3 linked regions of the Homo sapiens genome follow. The protein of the gene in region 2 purifies or fractionates together with the protein of the main gene of each other region. This does not show direct contact. Each region holds a gene or a part of one and is shown on either strand. Other genes may lie near its edges.

Region 1 (3,822 bases), 700 kb from region 2:
ATTATTTAACAGTGTTGGTTTCTCTCTCTTGTTTTCAGATTATTTATGTAAACCCGAAGACAACATCTACAGTATTGATTTCACCCGCTTCAAAATTCGAGATTTGGAGACAGGGACAGTACTTTTTGAGATTGCCAAACCTTGCGTTTCAGGTAGGCCTCTACGTTGTGGTGACCACTAGACAGTTTTGAGCCAAAGGTCTTTGAAACTCAAATCTTTGTGTGCCACTGCATCCTGTTTCTTGGACTCCAGTGTGTCCCACTTCTGTGACCTCTTCCCGTGGCCTGGTCTGCCAGGCATGGTGGTTTGAAGCTGCGTTCAGAGGCTGATGTTTGTTGGATGTCTATTCTGTGCTGGTCACTGTGTTCCACGTCTTTGTGCACATCAGTGTATGTAATCCTCACACCTCTTTGAGGAATTACTGTTATCTCTGTTTTACAGCGAAGGATCTGAGGCCTACAATTCCCAGGCGGCTCTTTCCTAAGGCCCTGTGCTGGTTCATCTTACCATGTTGCCTCCAGTTGGGAAAGGAATCCTTGAAATTAAACTATAATGAGGAAAACTCACCTGAGCCTGGTGCCCTCTTGGAGGGTGATAGGGAGGATCCTGGTCCAGACATGAGGCAGTTTGAGCCATCTTCTTGCTCTCTTTTACATATTGCCTTGGAGTTCCCAGACCTAGTTTGGATTTTAATCTCAACCATTTTCTGGAAGAACAGACCCAGGAACTCAACTACTTGGGGTTCCTTAAATTAGCCTCCCATAGCCGCTTCCTGTGCTTGTGATAAAGTGCCAGGCTGATCTGGACCACAGAAGCCTTTGGAGCACCTCACTGGAGGTTTAGCGCCCCCTGGAGTTAGTCATTTGTTAGAACACTGGTACAGATACCCATAGTATCAGTGTGGTTTGTAAACTTACTTTGCAGTGTTTCTCATCTGATTTGCTACTTAGAGCCTGCAAATTTGATAAGGCCCCGATTTCACCCCTACCTGGTGGTATTTATGCTATCATAATCTCATACTGACCAAGGCACCTAAAGGCTCAAGTTCATGGGTAATTTTGTTGTTGTTGTTTTGTGGGTTTTTTTTTTGTGTTGTTTGTTTTGAGACACAGTCTTGGTCTGTCACCCAGGCTGGCGTGCAGTGGCACAATCTTGGCTCACTGCAACCTCTGCCTCCTGGGTTCAAGAGCTTCTCCTGCCTCAGCCTCCCAAGTAGCTGAGATTACAGGTGCCCACCACCATGCCTAGCTAATTTCTGTATTTTTAATAGAGACGGGATTTCACCATGTTGGTCAGGCTGGTGTCAGACGCCTGACCTTTGATTCGCCTGCCTTGGTCTCCCAAAGTGCTGGGATTACAAGCGTGAGCCACCGCGCCTGGTTGCTTATGGGTAGTTTTTTATTGGGATGGTCAGATCAAGACCAGCTAGCTTCCTGGGTCTGTGGTGTTCTCATCTCTAAGCCACATATCACAGTACCTGGGACATTGCAAGGACTCCAGGCCTACTACAGGTATGTGGATTTGGATTAGACTCAAGAGTTGTCATTTCAATATAAGACGGAACTGTTTCAAGAAGGTCAGCTGAAGATACTGTAAAGTATCTTGGTTTTCAGTCTCTCTAGTTTTTACATTTAAGGATCTTGATTCACTTGTAATATTCCCCACATTGAGGCTGGGTGCGGTGGATCACACCTGTAATTCTAGCACTTCGGGAGGCTGAGGCAGGCAGATCACTTGAGCCCCAGGAGTTTGAGACCAGCCTGGGCAACATGGCAAAACCCCATCTGTACAAAAAATACAAAAAAATTAGCCAGGCGTGGTGGCACATGCCTGTGGTCCCAGCTACTCAGGAGGCTGAGGTGGAAGGATGGCTTGAGCCTGGGAGATCAAGGCTGCAGTGAGCCGTGATCACTGCATTGCACTCCAGCAAAGGTGACAGAGTGAGACCCTATCTCAAAATAAATCAATAAATATAAACAACAGATTATCCTCACACTGAATCACTACCTTTCTGCAGCACTTGTTCTGATGAATTTGAATCCCCAAGATTTGCTGTCTCTCTGAGTCACATTGTTGGAGCCAGGGTTTTAGAGTCTCTGGGGGTGAACCCCTACTCAGCCTGGTTGCCCAGTCGCTCTTGGGCTTGTCAAAAGCAGAGATGTTTGATGCTGAAAAAGTCTTCTCTTATGTTGTACTCATGTACAGCTTAGACCTGGAGAAAATATCCTCACTGGACACTGGAGGGTACTAACTCCTATTCACATTAGAATGCTTGTTCTCTGATTCTTTTTTTTTTTTTTTTTTTTTTTTTTTTTGAGACGGAGTTTCACTCTTGTTGCCCAGGCTGGAGTGCAATGGCACAATCTCGGCTCACTACAACCTCCGCCTCCCGGGTTCAAGCAATTCTCCTGCCTCAGCCTTCCGAGTAGCTGGGATTACAGGCATGCGCCACCACGCTGGGCTAATTTTGTATTTTTAGTAGAGACAGGGTTTCTCCATGTTGGTCAGGCTGGTCTTGAACTCCTGACCTCAGGGGATCCGCCTACCTCGGCCTCCAAAAGTGCTGGGATTACAGGCATGAGCCACCGTGCCCAGCCCTCTGATTCATTTTACAAATCTTTCATCTCCTGGGTTCAGGAATGGACTAGACCGGAGACCAGCATTAACCTTGTAGAGGCCACCACATCTGCTTCACCCTTTCCCAGGTGGTCAAAGGGTTAGGCCTGGTATGGCCTAGAAGTAAACATCAGTCAAGGAACTATAGTATCCCAAGGCTGTAGGTCAATGTCTTCTATTTAAATAACAAAATTATTTTTAGTGGTTTATCTTTGCAGCCTGTCAGAAATTTTTATATTCATTGAAATAACTTTCTGATAAGTGTCAACTTTTGTAGCCTCATTCTTTTAGGTTGGTGCTAGCGCTTCAACTTGGTTAACTGCAGACCTAGTCTGAATAGAATAGACCATGTCAGAGGCCCAGTTCCCAGCTTGTGTTTCAGGTTTCACCCTTAGGATATGGCATAAGCTCTCAAACTATTAAAAAAGGCTAATAGCTTAGTGTTGAAGAACAGGCCTTGAGTCAGATGGACCTGGATTCAAATCCCTGTTCCCTCCTCTTACTGTTTGAGGGACTTTGGACATGTTACCTGACTTCTCTGAACTTGAGCTTCCTGATCTGTAAAATAGAGACAGTAACACCTCGAAGGGTTGTTGTAAGGAGTCTGGACTATGGCAAGTGTCCTGCTATATAGCAAGTGCGCAGTAAACACTGGCCATTCTTCTTGTTGGTGTGGTTACTGGGATTGGTTGCCATTGTGCTGTTGGGACTGGTGATAGAACTCTTGGATTGAGAATGTCGAGATGGTGCACTGAAGATTCTGTGTGCTCTTTCAGACCAGGAGGAGGATGAGGAGGAGGGAGGTGGAGACGTGGACATCAGCGCAGGACGTTTTGTCCGCTATCAGTTCACACCGGCATTTCTCCGCCTCCGGACAGTCGGGGCTACGTGAGTACCATTACTACCTGAGGGGAGAACATTCTGTTTGTTCACAGAGAAGAGTGTTTTCGGTTGGGTTTTGGGTTGGCTTTAGAGGAGGGAGGAGGCAAAGTCGGGCTTACAGAGATTTATTTTCCAGGGTGGAGTTCACAGTGGGAGACAAACCTGTTTCAAACTTCCGGATGATCGAACGGCACTATTTCCGGGAACACTTGCTGAAAAACTTTGACTTTGATTTTGGCTTCTGCATCCCCAGCAGTAGGAACACTTGTGAACATATCTATGAGTTTCCCCAGCTTTCGGAGGATGTCAGTATGTATCCCCTGA
Region 2 (3,600 bases):
TTTTGTCTCCTGCTCTTTAAATGGAGGAAATTGTTCATGTAGGAAAAGACCAGGAAGTGTGATTCTGCTTTCTGCTCTGTGTGGTTCAAGCTCTGTTTTGTTAATTACATGTTTATACCAAGGGGTGGAAAGGTTTTAATTCATTAACACAAGAGTGTGTTTTTCTTAAAGTCCTATATTAGAACTTCTGTGAATCCAGACTGCCTTGGCAATGAATATTTTGATTTTCATGGCTTTTGAAACATGAAAATACCTCTGGAAATAGTCTGGTGCCACTGGGGACTTCACTAAGAACTAAAATTAAATTTTAGTAGAAGGCAGAAAGAAAACTCATGCTTTCATAATGGTTTATATCTTGCTGTCATCAAATGCTTTTCTTTCTTCAGCATGTTTGCTGTGACTGCAAGAAGGATTTTTGCTCCGTTTGTTCAGTCTTACAAGAAAATCTCCGTAGATGTTCTACTTGTCACTTATTACAAGAGACAGCATTTCAGCGCCCTCAGTTAATGCGACTGAAGGTGAAGGACCTGCGGCAGTATCTCATTCTGAGAAATATACCCATAGATACTTGTCGTGAGAAAGAAGACTTGGTGGATCTAGTACTGTGCCATCATGGACTAGGCTCTGAGGACGACATGGACACAAGCAGTCTGAATTCTTCAAGGTCCCAGACTTCTAGCTTTTTTACACGTTCGTTTTTTTCAAACTATACAGCCCCCTCTGCTACTATGTCTTCGTTTCAGGGAGAGCTTATGGATGGAGACCAAACATCCAGATCTGGAGTGCCGGCACAGGTACGAGGGGGTAACTAATTACACCCAGGGCCCGGCACGCTTATTCTTGGCCGTATATGGTGGGGCCTTTAGTGCTTGATGACTTCTGATAAACTTCAAGTCATGTGCTGGAGTGAAGCTTCCACACCCAGCTGAACTCTGCACTTAAAGGCTGTCCTGATGTATAGTGTCTGCTGAGGTGCTAGGTGGCTCCAAAGTCTGCTGTCTGAAGGGTCCCAAAATAGCTCATCAGTCTCTTGGCCTTAGTTAATTTCTCTGTCTTACACAGTTAGACACTAACTGTTGAAGAAATGGCTGTGAAAAAGTAGCACATACACATTTGTAGTGTTATGTGTTAGTGCACGTGTTTCAGTGACCACAGAAAACAATCAGTAGTGTAAGTTAGCCTAATGCCCATTTGTCTTGCTACAGTGAAATTGTTCTAATTTAGTTAATGAAAGAGCCATCTGAATTAGTGAAAAAATGTAGTTATTTACTAATTGTAATTAATAATATTGTCCCAGTGAGGTCCTTGGACATCCTGATTGAATAACATGTAAAGGCTTGTAATTAATATTTACTTGTACGTGAGTGATTCTAAACTGCTGAAAGAAATGTTTTGAACAAATTTTTTCACGCTTAATTTTCTTCTCTGAAGAAGGGGGTTATTAAAAGTAGAGGAAAGCTGGATGCGGTGGTGTGAGCCTGCAGTCTGATACTTGGCAGGCTGAGGCAAGAGGATTGCTTTAGTTCAGGAGTACGAGGCTGCAGGTGTACCATGATTGCAACTGTGAATAGCCACTGTACCCCCAGCCTGGGCAACATAGCAAGACTTTTTTTTTTGTTTGGAGGCAGAGTCTCACTCTGTTGCCCAGGCTAGAGTGAAGTGGCGAGATCTTAGTTCACTGCAACCTCTGCCCCGCTGGGTTCAAGCAATTCTCCTGCCTCAGCCTTCCGAGTAGCTAGGATTACACCCCAGTTAATTTTTGTATTTTTAGTAAAGATGGGGTTTCACCATGTTGGTCAGGCTGGTCTCGAATACCTGACCTCAGGTTATCTACCTGCCTTGGCCTAAGTGCTAAGATTACAGGCATGAGCCAACCGCGCCTGGCCAAGAGTGTCTTTTAATTAGTAAATGAATAAATGCAGAGGGAAATTTGGTCTAATTGCCTTCTAGATATAGTCCTGTGTCCTCTAATAATGTTTTGGTCAGTGATAGACCACATACACGGCAGTGGTTCTGTAAGATTATAATACCATATTTTTATTGTACCTTTTTTGTGTTTAGATATGTTTAGATACACAAATACTTATTACTGTGTTATAGCTGCCTACAGTATTCAGTACACTAACGTGATGTACGGCTTCGTAGCCGGCCATGCCCTATAGCCTAGGTGTGTAGCAGGCTGTGCCATCTAGGTTTGTGGAAGTACACTGTGATGTTCGCACAATGACAAAATCGCCTAAGGACACATTACTCAGAACGTCTCCTAGTCGTCAAGCAACACATACTGTAGTCGTAAATTAGATAAGTCCAAGCCAGGAGTTTTATTATTCTCCCAAATGAGAATTGGCATATTTATGCTGCAAACATAAGGCACAGCTGACTTACATACCCCTTTTGGGTATACACCACCATTTGGGTGATGTGGATTGTTGGATGCTACAGTATGGTGCCTGGCAATCAGGGTGGAATATTTGAAATTGGGAACCGACCTAGCTTATTGGAGAGCTATTGTCAAATATAGTCAAAAGAAAATATGTGAAGGAAGGTACATAACCCAAACTGAAGAGATTTGTGTTTTCTAAAGTGTTCTGATTGAGAAATTTTAAAAACTAGAATTAGCCTCAGCCATCAGTGAAGTCTAGAAAGCCTTCGTTGGAATTAGATTGTCTAAGTACGCTGTGGTAGGACTGAGATCTTTCAAATCAGATGCCCCTGATGCTTGGGCTGACCCATCAGAGCTTTAGCTTTTTTCTGTCTGCATCTTACAGGCTCCAGTTAAACTAGCCATTTGCAGGTACTTTGATAATGACACAGTGCTGTCCCATATCCTTAATGGCTTTGGCATTCCATTATGGGACCTTCCTGAGAGAGTTAATACTCTGGTTAGATTTTATAACTTTACACACACACAGGAATTTGTGTTTTGAGCTAACTTTATGGAAGGTAGGTTCTTCATGCAATTTTGTAGGGCCCAACTTTTTGGAAGGGTCAGCAGCATTCTGAATCCAAAGATGTGCATTATGCTGGCTTTCTGGTCATCATGGGGAGCATCAATGACAAGGTTTTCTCTAGTGATAAATACAGATTGATTCCTGACCTAATCAGATACGTTGTATAAGTGTAGGTACAAAGTGAAATCACTTCAGCAAACACAGAAGATGATGATGACGACGATGATGAGGATGATGATGATGAAGAAGAAAACGCAGAGGATCGGGTGAGGCCACCTATAAAATTTGGTTTCCCTGACATGTCAGCCTGACAGGAAGGGACAGTGCCCTGTGGACATTCGCTAGATTAGTACAGGATGTTTCTTCTGGTTTGAATGTAGGACAGTATACTGAAACACTTCTAGGACTGCTGAGATGGCTGGGAGAATATTCAGGGCCAGTGATGAGTTTAGAGTGGGGAGGGTCTGGACTTATGGGACCAGGGCTAATGGATGCTCTGTGGTTTCAGAACCCCGGGCTCTCCAAGGAGAGAGTGAGAGCTTCACTGTCTGACTTGTCAAGCCTTGATGATGTGGAAGGAATGAGCGTGCGCCAGCTGAAGGAAATTCTGGCTCGGAATTTTGTCAACTATTCTGGCTGTTGTGAAAAA
Region 3 (3,822 bases), on a different chromosome or scaffold from region 2:
AACAATACTCTAACACACATACACACACTCCCTCCTCTGCTTCACACATCTACATGGCATTTTTCATCATTGGCCATTCTATGTATTTTATCTAATTCTACAGGCTCAGTGCCTGTTCCTCCATCCCTCCCCATTAGACTGTCAGCTCCATGAGGACAAGCATTGGTATATCTGTGTTCGTTTCTGCAACCCCAGCACAGACCCTAACACATAAAGGTATTCGATAATAAAATTACTAAAGCTGGGCGCGGTGGCTCACGCCTATAATCCCAGCACTTTTGGAGGCCGAGATGGGCGGATCACTTGAGGTCAGGAGTTCGAGACCCGCCTGGTCAATACGGTGAAATAAACCCTATCTCTACTAAAAATACAAAAATTTGCTGGGCGTGATGGTGATGCATGCCTGTGATCCCAGCTACTCGGGAGGCTGAGGCATGAGGATCGCTTGAACCTGGGAGGCGGAGGTTGCAGTGAGCCGAGATCGTGCCACTGCACTCCAGCCTGGGCGACAGAGCGAGACTCTTGTCTCAAAAAAAAAAAAAAAAAAATTCTTGGATTTTTGTCTATTATATTTAATACTCATTCAGCGTTTAAATGATATATATACTCATGACCCACCAATTCCACTTCTGGAATCCTGCACTGGGAAACCGCTCACCTGAGGGCAAACCAAAGCACCTACACAGCATGTTCTCCACAGAACTATTTCTAATGGCCAAAAAAATGGCAAGAACCTAAATACAATCGGGGAGTGCAGTGCCATCCTATCGCGTGCTGAGCACCAAGAGAAAGAACGAAGACCTATATCATCACCATGAAGCGTCCCGAGAGATACAGCGAGTGACAACGACAAATCAGCCAAATACTCGCGCAGCATGATTTTTTAAAAAAGCGATTAGATTACAAAAACTATACGTTTTCCAGTTGCATAGACACGCACGTAAAAGCACAGAAACGCGTCTGCAAAGTCACCAGACTATTAACAGCAGTTACCTCTCGGAAAGGAAAGGAAGGACTAAGTCTGGAGATAATTTAATTCGCTACAAGAACGTTCTGGTATATTCTCTCGTACTTCCACATTAATTTTAGAAGGCTGACAAACCAATGCTTTAGACTCCGGGCCGTAACTCTCAGGGTCACTCATCCATCCTCCACTGTTGCTGCTCCCCGCGGCCACCCCCGCGCCGGCCAACAGCGCTCCTCACTCACCAGACACGGGTGAAGGATCCCTCTTGGCCTGGAGGCGACTGGCCTGAGGCAAGAACGGGTTGTTCACCCTACGGGAAGCGGCAAGGTCAGCGGGGAACGGGCCCGGGCCGTCCCCCGCTCGAGCCGCCAGCCCGCGAGGCTGCTCACCCAAACGCGTTGGGCTCCTCCACCACCTTCATCTTCGCTGCACCTGCCGGCGCGGGCCCTACGGGGAGCGAGACCGTGAGCGGGGAGGCCGGGGTGCAGAGCGCGCGCGGGGCCTGGGGACGCGGACGGCCGGGCCACTCACCGCCGGCCGAGAGCCCGAGGAGCAACAGGAGCCGCGCCAGCCCCGCCGCCATCGCGCCGCAGCGGCCGCCGCGCGGTCACGTGAAGTGACGGTCACGTGACCACGGGGACCGGAAGTGGCGTCCGGCGCAAGCGCTGGCAGCCGCACAGCCCATTGGGAGGCCGAGGGGCGCGGCCGTGGGGTGGGGAGTCCCCGGCACCCCAGGTCCGCGCCATGGGCCGCAGGAGGGCAGCGCGCGGGCCGGGGGCGGAAGGCGGCCGCCCTCGGCACCTCCCGACGCGCTCCCTGGAGGCCTTCGCCGAGGAGGTCGGCGCCGCGCTGCAGGGTGAGCGAGGCGTGATGGGGAGAGCGGGTCAGGGTTTGAGGGCCTGCCCGGGGGTCCCACGCTGAGGCCGAGTGCCCTTCTCTCTCTCGTGCAGCTTCCGTGGAGCCAGGGGCGGCTGACGGCGAGGGCGGCCCGGGCCCGGCGGCGCTGCCCTGCACGCTGGCCATGTGGGAGTTGGGCCACTGCGACCCCCGGCGCTGCACGGGCCGCAAGCTGGCCCGCCTGGGGCTGGTGCGCTGCCTGCGCCTGGGCCACAGATTCGGCGGTCTGGTGCTGAGCCCCGTGGGCAAGCAGTACGCGTCCCCCGCAGACAGGTAGGCGCGGGAGGCCTGCCCGAGGTCGTCTTCATTTCCAGCGCGTGGTTCCCTTCAGGGATGGTTTAGTGGCACTTGTATGTCGCACCCACATCCACACCCACGTGGGCAGGGAACGTCTGTCTAGTTTGCCTCCGTTGCGTAGCGCAGAGCCTGGGATAAAGGAGGTTTTGGGGTAATAAACGTTTGTTGAGTGAATAAACACATGCTCCAGGTGCCCCAAGCAGCTGCCTCAAAAGCTTGCTCGTGAAGTCCGTTTGAGGGTGTTTGGGGATGGCGGAATGATGTCCCTGAATCCCTTAGCTAGGCCATTCTCCGGGGCATGCTCCACCTTGGGTAGTGCTGGCTCCTGAACTTATCCCATGCTGTCCCTGGCAGACAGCTGGTGGCGCAGTCTGGGGTCGCCGTCATCGACTGCTCCTGGGCCAGGCTGGACGAGACACCGTTTGGGAAGATGCGAGGGAGCCACTTGCGCCTGTTGCCCTACCTGGTGGCCGCCAACCCCGTGAACTATGGCCGGCCCTACAGACTTTCCTGCGTGGAAGCGTTTGCTGCCACCTTCTGCATCGTAGGTGAGTCCAGGGGCCCCACAGCAGTGTGACCCGGCGGCCTGCTGTTCCTGCTATGCTCCCAGCATCATGTTTCCTGCCGACAGACCCCAGGAGGAGCATAAGGGACGGACAGGGGAACAGTTCAGACAGACCACGGTTCCAGCCCCAACTGTCACTTCAGGTTTTCGGCCTGTGGAGTTGCAGTAGAGGCAGAATGGGATCGCTGTTCTATCAGGGCCGGTGTGTGGGGTGCCATTCATTATCAGGGCACCACTGCCCAGAGAATCCTCCTTATCCTCCACGTCCTCCTTACTGAATTGCTGATCTAAAGAGGCCCTGATGAGGCGTGGGGCAGTCTTGGTGGGAATGTTTGTTTCGCAGCAAAGGAGGGGGACTTGGTCGGTTGCAGAGGTGTGGACTGTAGCAAGGGAGGTGCAGGCTGGGGGCAGCACGGGTTCTCAGGACTGTGAGCTGATGTTTGCTGGGGACCCTGCGGTTACTTGGGAGAGCGCCGCCATCCGGCAGCAGGGTGATCAGGAGGCACTTGAGGGGACCGTCGACTTCTTTGGGTTTCCTGTTTCTCACACCGTCAGGCTTTCCAGACCTTGCTGTCATTTTGCTGCGGAAGTTTAAATGGGGCAAGGGCTTCTTGGACCTGAACCGCCAGCTCCTGGACAAGTACGCGGCCTGCGGCAGCCCGGAGGAGGTGCTGCAGGCGGAGCAGGAGTTCTTGGCCAATGCCAAGGAGAGCCCCCAGGAGGAGGAGATCGGTGAGCCTTGGCGGGGTGGGAACCAAGGCCCTCCAAAGCCTGGGGGGTGGGAGGCCTGGTCCTGCTCTGAGCTCACTTAGAGGCCACTTTCCTCTCTCGGCTCAGATCCCTTCGATGTGGATTCAGGGAGAGAGTTTGGAAACCCCAACAGGCCTGTGGCCAGCACCCGGTAGGTCCTTGGGCTTAATTTCATGATCACTCAGACCCAGGGCTCTCTTCTACCTCTGGCCTGAGCCCTTCCTGCTGCCTGGGGGTGGTGTTGTAAACAACACCCCGATGGTCTTCTGACTAGAAAACCTGCAGTGCATGTCCCACTGGAGAGGTTTGGGTGTGGAGAGCACAGGGAGGAAGAGGAATCTGTCCT

What was found.
Region 1: the proteins of RNF34 (region 2) and UNC119B purify together in Homo sapiens (affinity purification with mass spectrometry; 2 studies listed by BioGRID and IntAct, with this or other methods). This does not show direct contact.
Region 3: the proteins of RNF34 (region 2) and TSR3 purify together in Homo sapiens (affinity purification with mass spectrometry; 2 studies listed by BioGRID and IntAct, with this or other methods). This does not show direct contact.

Annotation. Positions count from the first base shown.
Region 1 is NC_000012.12:120,713,236-120,717,057, forward strand, and holds part of UNC119B (protein unc-119 homolog B), read left to right. Parts: intron 1-38; coding exon 39-152; intron 153-3,392; coding exon 3,393-3,504; intron 3,505-3,634; coding exon 3,635-3,807; intron 3,808-3,822. UniProt on the Homo sapiens protein: Myristoyl-binding protein that acts as a cargo adapter: specifically binds the myristoyl moiety of a subset of N-terminally myristoylated proteins and is required for their localization.
Region 2 is NC_000012.12:121,417,118-121,420,717, forward strand, and holds part of RNF34 (E3 ubiquitin-protein ligase RNF34), read left to right. Parts: intron 1-386; coding exon 387-794; intron 795-3,124; coding exon 3,125-3,217; intron 3,218-3,459; coding exon 3,460-3,600. UniProt on the Homo sapiens protein: E3 ubiquitin-protein ligase that regulates several biological processes through the ubiquitin-mediated proteasomal degradation of various target proteins.
Region 3 is NC_000016.10:1,349,694-1,353,515, reverse strand, and holds the start of TSR3 (18S rRNA aminocarboxypropyltransferase), read left to right. Parts: upstream 1-1,637; 5' UTR 1,638-1,711; coding exon 1,712-1,823; intron 1,824-1,917; coding exon 1,918-2,137; intron 2,138-2,515; coding exon 2,516-2,709; intron 2,710-3,281; coding exon 3,282-3,458; intron 3,459-3,563; coding exon 3,564-3,627; intron 3,628-3,822. Other genes in the region: GNPTG (N-acetylglucosamine-1-phosphotransferase subunit gamma precursor), read right to left, coding at 1,210-1,277, 1,357-1,414, 1,499-1,550. UniProt on the Homo sapiens protein: Aminocarboxypropyltransferase that catalyzes the aminocarboxypropyl transfer on pseudouridine at position 1248 (Psi1248) in 18S rRNA.